Homo sapiens: one gene and its partner. The protein of the gene in region 2 interacts with the protein of the main gene of each other region in a pairwise test. Each region holds a gene or a part of one and is shown on either strand. Other genes may lie near its edges. The genes, in order: TMEM222 and SLC10A2.

Region 1 (3,822 bases), on a different chromosome or scaffold from region 2:
ACCCTGGCTGACCTCTCCCCCGACCCCAAATACTCTATTCTCAGGGTGCTGGCCCCTCCTGTGCCCCAGAAGGCCTGGCCCGCCCCGGCAGGAGCGACCTGCCTCTAGAGCCAGTCACATGGGTGTTCATCACTTACTTGGCAGGCTTTCCAAAGGCCATGTTGTCCTCCTGTTGAGGGACAAAAGCAGAGGTCAGTGAGGAACTTACATTTGGGCCAGATGACAAACCTGGGTAGGTGGCAGAAGTGCAGTGACTTAGAAGAGGGTATGTCAGGGGTGGGGGGGCCAGAAGTGGGGCCTGGGCCCTGCCCTGGGGCTGGCATGGCATCTAAAGAGCTAGCAGCTGTTCTGCAGGAAGAAGGCAGTGTGGCACAAGTGCACAGAGCACTGCATCAGAGACCAAAGATCTGGGGCTCCAGCTGCCACTGTCCCTTGGTGTGGCACCCAGGAATTCTCTTGCCCTCTCTGGGCCTCATTTTCTCCAAGTTCTCTGGTCAGTCTTCTCTGATCTCTGAGGACCAGCAGGAGGTTTCCATCATGGTCTGGCCTCCTGACTCAACAGTGGTGGCCCACATGGAGACCATCTCCTCGCCCAGCAGTCTGACTGCATTCATAGCAGGGCGGGGGCGCTGGGCCCAGAGGGACTTCCTGTGAGGGAGACACTGCAGTGAAGTCCTAGACTCATCACATTATTCCTGGGGTACAGGACTTACACAGAGACAGACTCTGGGTTCAGATCAGGGAGACCCTGCTGACAGACCTGGTCAATGATTAATCACCATAAAAATATATGATAAAGTAATGGATGTGAAAGTATTTTTAAGTACAAAGTGACAGACCTTTGTCGTGTTAAGATGATCATGACAACTATTAATATAAACAGGTTGGTGCCACCACACCCCTTCAGTCCAGCCTCTGACACCTGGAGACAGGATGATGCATGCTCCTCTGCTGCTAGCCCACTGGACCAGTCTTGGTCACAGCCCCAGGGAACAGACCTGAGAACACAGCTGCTTCATTCTAAAGCCCCACCCCCTCTTCTCCATGGCCACACCCAGGGAACCGAATCAGCCTCCCGTGTCCCCCCACCTTGACTCCCACCTTCTGAAGGTCCAGAGATGTGGTTCCTGGATGGTCTGACTCTCCACTCTTGCCTCTAATCCCTACCCATGTCTCGGTACCCCAGGGGTGGGGGCAAAGGGCTGGGTCAGTTACTTAAGAATCCTTCTGGCCACACTGCCCTCCCGGCCTGTCCTGGAGGCAAGAGAAGGGGGAAAGGGGTCAAACACTGGTGAGGGGCAGAGGGCCAGGGCCAGGACTGCGGGTTATCTACGTTCTCCTGGGTCTGGGGAGACGAAGCCTGCCTGCAGGCAAGACAGGACAGCCTTCCACTTAAACCTTGGAACCCCCCGGGTGGGCAGAATGGGGACTCACTGAGACAAAGTAGGGGCCCGCGAAGTCCCGAATGACTCCTGTGGATGTGCAGATGCCCATGTGGCCGATGATGGGGAAAAACCACCTGTGAGGAAAAGGACGGGGAAGGGACAGAGCTTAGGGGATCTTTCAGCCAGTTAGACGGACGCTGGGGACCCTTCATACAGTACAGAAGCATGTGAATATTACGTTTCATTGACAGGTGGCCATTAGGGTGGTCCAGAAGGCTGGGGAAGCACAGACAAGGGTAACTGCAAACCGACAGCACAATGGGATACCTCAGCATCCCGCCAGGATGGCTGTAACTCAAACGACAGCAACACCAATGCAGGTGAGGGCAAGGGACAACCAGAGCTCTCATTCACTGCTGGTGGGAGGGATAAACTGTTTCTACCTTTTTTTTTTTTTCAAATGGAGTCTCGCTCTGTCGCCCAGGCTGGAGTGCAGTGGCACAATATTGGCTCACTGCAACCTCCGCCTCCCGAGTTCAAGCAATTCTCCTGCCTCAGCCTCCTGAGTAGCTGGGACTACAGGTGTGCACCACCACGCCTGGGTAATTTTTGTATTTTTAGTAGAGATGGGGTTTCACCATGTTGGCCAGGATGGTCTCGATCTCTTGACCTCGTGATCCACGTGCCTTGGCCTCCCAAAGTGCTGGGATTACAGGCATAAGCCACTGCACCCGGCCTACCATTTTGTTTTTGAGATGGAGTCTCGCTCTCTTGCCCTGGCTGAAGTGCGGTGGCACAATCTCAGCTCACTGCAACCTCCGCCTCCTGGGTTTAAGCAATTCTCCTGCCTCAGCCTCCCGAGTAGCTGGGACTACAGGAGTGCACCACCATGCCTGGCTAATTTTTGTATTTTTAGTAGACATGAGGTTTCATCACGTTGGCCAGGCTGGTCTCGAACTCCTGACCTCAAGTCATCTGCCTGCCTCGGCCTCCCAAAGTGCTGGAATTACAGGCGTGAGCCACCGTACCCGGCCTGTTTCTACCATTCTGGAAAACAGTTTGGCACTATACTAAATGCCTCAGCAGTTTCACTTTTGGAACCTTCTTTGCCCTCACCCCTGGGAAATAACATTTGCCAAAACTCATTGAACTGTACTCTTAAAATGTGTACATTTTATTATATGTAAACTATAATTCAATAAAATTGATAAAAACAACTAGAAAGAATCCAAATGTTCAACAACAGTACGATGAATAAGTGTGGTATAGTTATACATTGAAATAGTCCATAACAATGAAAAACAGTGTCACTTCTGCTACACACAACACAGGCTTTCACAGACATAAGGGTGAATGAAGGAAATCTTACACAGAGTACGTAACATAGCACTCTGTTTACGTGAAGTCCAAGAAAAGGCAAGACTGATCTATGGCTAGAGGTCCACAGCGGGGTGGAATCTGTGGTAGAACTGACTGGGAGGGCACAAGGGGGTCCTCTGGGTCTTAGCATTGCTTTCTAGCCCCCGTCTGGGTGGCGGTTACATGAGTGTGTGATATGCAAAAATTCTTCCTGCTGTATACTTGAGATTCGCACACCGTTTGGTACATAAGTTATACCTCAATAAGAAAGTTAAAAAAAAAAAAAAAGGTGGGCGGTCATGACACCAGTATGGGTGGGGGAGTTCAGGAAAGGCTTCCCTGAGGAAATAACAAAGAAACAGAATGTGCAAGGGTAGAAATTGGAACAGAAGCATGGTGTATGCCAGGAAATAAAAGTTCCTTTTTTATAAACCATGGGCATTAAAAAACAACAATAAATCTCAGATGCACCCCAATATGTCACACATAGGAACCCCAGACCTGTCTGTGTTCTGAGAACCATGGCCCTACAGGACCTGGGTGCTGGAGAGACTGATCCAGTTTAAGGAGAACTCACAGGGCCAGTGGCCGAGTCCTGGCCTCAATGCTGCCTGGGCACGAGCATAAAGCACCTGGCTAGGGGTGCAGGCCAAGCCTCCAGAGACGCAGTTTAAAAAAGCAGTTACAGGGGGCTGGGGTGGAGCCAGTAAAGACTTCACAGAGGAGGTGACTTTTAACCTTGACCTGTGAAAGGACACAACATCAACAGGCAGAAAACAACACTGCAGAGCAAGAAAGTGGTACATGTGCCTGGAAGAACGAAAGGGGGAGAGGCCAGCTCAGGGGCTACTGCTGTACCACTGGCAAGAGATGATGGAGGTCCTGACTAGAGGATCAGGGGCAGGGTGGTGAGAAACACATGGATTCAAAAGATCTTTCAAATGAAGACTGGAGAGTTTACGACTGACAGGATGGGGGTCTTCCAGGTCTACAGCTTGAGCGCTTGAGACAATGGTAGGGCCAGAGTGGTCTTTTGAGAATTGAACTCAGATTCCATCATTCCCCTGTTCAACACCTA
Region 2 (3,282 bases):
AATTTTATAATAATAAACTGCAAAATTACTTTGCATAGAGATTATAACCTATGATTCACATGGCAGATCACATTTTCTGTAGACTGGAGGCTGCTTAGAGAAAGAAATCACCATTCTTAGTTCTATGGCTACTCATGGCGAGAGGGATGACTGCACTTCAGGAAGACCTAGCATAAATCTTTAGGAGACATTTGCTCAGGGCAGCCACAAGCTTCTTCAGGCATTCAGCCCTGCACGTGGTACTCAACAATGATAAGAACAATAGGGAGGATTTATTCTGTACCGCCATATCCCAGTTAATGTGCTAGTTCTTAATAAATATACACATGGTGCAGTGCAACCTCCAGGACATGGGTTTGATGGTCCTCTGTAGAAGGACTTGAACTAGAACAACGTTCCCATTCCCTCCCTGCCTTCATTCAATCTTTCCCCCGGAGAGAAGAGACTCGGCTGATGGGTGATCAGCATTCCTCTTTTCTGTGGAGCTGCTGGTCTCTGATAGCAAGCATTTCTCAGCTTATTTTTAATGTCAGCTCATCAGGGTAGGCTCTGCCCTGCGAGGCAAGACCTGCAGTGTCTATGCATGTGTGAGTACATGTCTGCACATGTGTGAGGCAGTGGAGGAAAGGGTGGTTTCAACAAGCCCATTTGGTTGCAGATTCAAGTCATGTTTTCCAATTAAGTTTTATCCATAGTTAAAGTGCTATTCTGTTATCTGAATATCTGATTTTTCTTCTACTTCTCAATTGGTCACAAAGGCAAGAGGAGGACAGAAAATACTCCTTATAGGACCCCTCGAATTCTAATACCTCACATATAAAATGGCCATAATAATATTAGCTACCTCATAGGGCAATTGTGAACATTAAATGAGATAAAATTAAATGCCTAACATGGTCTGTGAAGAATAGTAAATGCTCAATAAATGTTAACGTTCATTATGATACACAGCTGAGAGAGATAATGACTTGCTTCAAAGATCTTATTAACTCAAGATCAATATTTCCTTTAGATTGGTCCCTGAACTTCTAGTCATATATTATTTTCAAAGCCACTGAACCACACTATTGAATTTAATTGAGCTTGTGGTCAATTTGAAGATCCGCCACTTATTATAAACTGTTTTGAGCTGAGAGTCCCTCAGCTTAAACTTATGCCAATGATTTCATTTAACCAAACTATACCTCTTGTTTATCCCTTTTTCTTTCCCTCCCTTCTCTCCCTGCCTTCCTCCCTCCCTCCCTCCCTCTCTCCCTCCCCCATCCTTCCTTTTTTCCCTTTTTCTTTCTTCCCCTCCTCTCCTTTTTCCAAAAAAAAATTTAGAATCCTAGCCTTACCACCAAAATATGTTTCCAGGTATTGTATACACTTAACAAAGATTCCTCCCTTATTTTTATACATACTGATGTAACTGGGAAATTTCAAGACCGAGTTGAGTGCTCCCTTTTCCTCATTCCTTCAACTTAATTTTTTATTAATCAACCTCTTTGGGGTTAGTGTTCAACTAGTGCATTACTTAATTGTTCTATCAACCAGTCCACTTTCTCTGGCTTATCTAGTAGACATCATTAAGTAATTATTTGGAAAAATCCCACTGTGTGCCAAATTGGGCAGATCAAACAACGTTATTATACAGAAAACAAGGTAATTAGGCCTGGACTCCTGCTTCCTGGAGCAGTGATAAATCCATGGAATGTTTTCAGTGGATTCAGAGTATTCTGTTCTGGAAAGGAAGCCTCTGCTTTGAGAATGACATTCAAGACAGTAGTGCAGAGGAGATCAGCATCACAGGGCAAGTTGAAGAGCTGATGAAGCTAAGCAGAAAAGTAAAGCAAAACCATATTTTTAGTAGAGATGGGGTTTCACCGTGTTAGCCAGGATGGTCTCGATCTCCTGACCTCATGATCTGCCCGCCTCGGAACCCCGTCTCTACTAAAAATACAAAAACAAAATTAGCCTGTCATGGTGGCGGGCACCTGTAGTCCCAGCTACTTGGGAGGCTGAGGTGGGAGAATGGCGTGAACCCAGGAGGCAGAGCTTGCAGTGAGCAGAGATCACACCACTGCAATCCTGCCTGGACGACAGAGTGAGGGGCTGTCTCAAAAAAAAAAGAAAAAAAAAGAAAAGAAAAGAAAAAAAGAAAAGAGAGAGAGAGAGAAAAGCAAAACCAAACAAAACCAAACTATATCTCTGGACATTTTGTGACCTAACATTTACATTAGTTTTGTTGCGTGCCTTCACTTTATATTCCTCATTACAATGTCATGAGGCTTTAAAAACTAGCTTTTTTATTAAAAAAAATAGAATGTAAAAATAGAGGTTAAATATTATCAGCCCTTGGAAAGGAAAATGTAGAAAGAATTTTCAACTAGGTGAAGGCCAGTGGGCGGTGGGGCCTGATGGGAAACGCTGGGAGCTTCATGCCACAGGACAGGAGAAGTAAGAATTACTTAAACTACACCTAGTACTTTACATAAGGAACATTTTTGCTTCAACCACTTCAATTATATGGGTATTTAAAATATATATATACATGCATATACACATATGCACACACACATCTTCCTTGTAAGTTAGCCTGGTAAATTTTCTTTGTATACCAGTTTTCTGATAAATATCCTATATTTATAAAGCATATCAAGACAATGTTTTGAAAAAGATCACCAAATCCTGAGTTCCTGGGCGAATGCCAGAAGGCGCACAATAAAATGGTCCCAACAGGTTCCTCTGCCTTCCTTATTACTGAGGAAAAGAAAGTCATTGGAGAGAATCGGCCTCCATTACTTTTCACTCAAAAATAATCTTTGCTAGAATCTTTTGGTAAAACTACCATCTTTTCATCAGCAATTGGAAAGTCATGATAATATGACGGTGGCTTTTTCCTCTCATATATTTGTACAATTCACCACCAGGAACGGGGAGTTTTAAAAAAATGTTGTTTTAGCAACTCCAGGATTTTTCAAAGATTATCATGAAATGGGATTGGCATGATTCCTTACATCCTAAGAATATTGCGGCAAAGGCGAGCTGGAAAATGCTGTAGATGAGCGGGAAGGTGAATACGACATTGAGCTCCTCAGGAGTGAAGGAGAGCTGAACGATGGTGGAACATAGCTGCGTGTTCTGCATCCCCGTTTCAAAAGCAACCGTTCGGCACCTAAAGAAGATGTTAAGAGAGCACATGTTTTAGTAGTTTTGTTATTGTGAAACATGAAAAGCAGATATAATAATAAGTACATATATATGCATTATGTCTCTGCTTTTAATGCATGTATTTAAGAT

Evidence for each region.
Region 1: the proteins of SLC10A2 (region 2) and TMEM222 interact in binary tests that used the Homo sapiens proteins (3 or more experiments, as listed by UniProt).

The regions. Positions count from the first base shown.
Region 1 is NC_000001.11:27,328,417-27,332,238, reverse strand, and holds part of TMEM222 (transmembrane protein 222), read right to left. Parts: intron 1,525-3,822; exon of another isoform or gene 1,520-1,524; coding exon 1,435-1,519; intron 1,255-1,434; exon of another isoform or gene 1,102-1,254; intron 999-1,101; exon of another isoform or gene 170-998; coding exon 138-169; intron 1-137.
Region 2 is NC_000013.11:103,046,290-103,049,571, forward strand, and holds part of SLC10A2 (ileal sodium/bile acid cotransporter), read right to left. Parts: intron 3,158-3,282; coding exon 3,000-3,157; intron 1-2,999. UniProt on the Homo sapiens protein: Plays a critical role in the sodium-dependent reabsorption of bile acids from the lumen of the small intestine. Transports various bile acids, unconjugated or conjugated, such as cholate and taurocholate.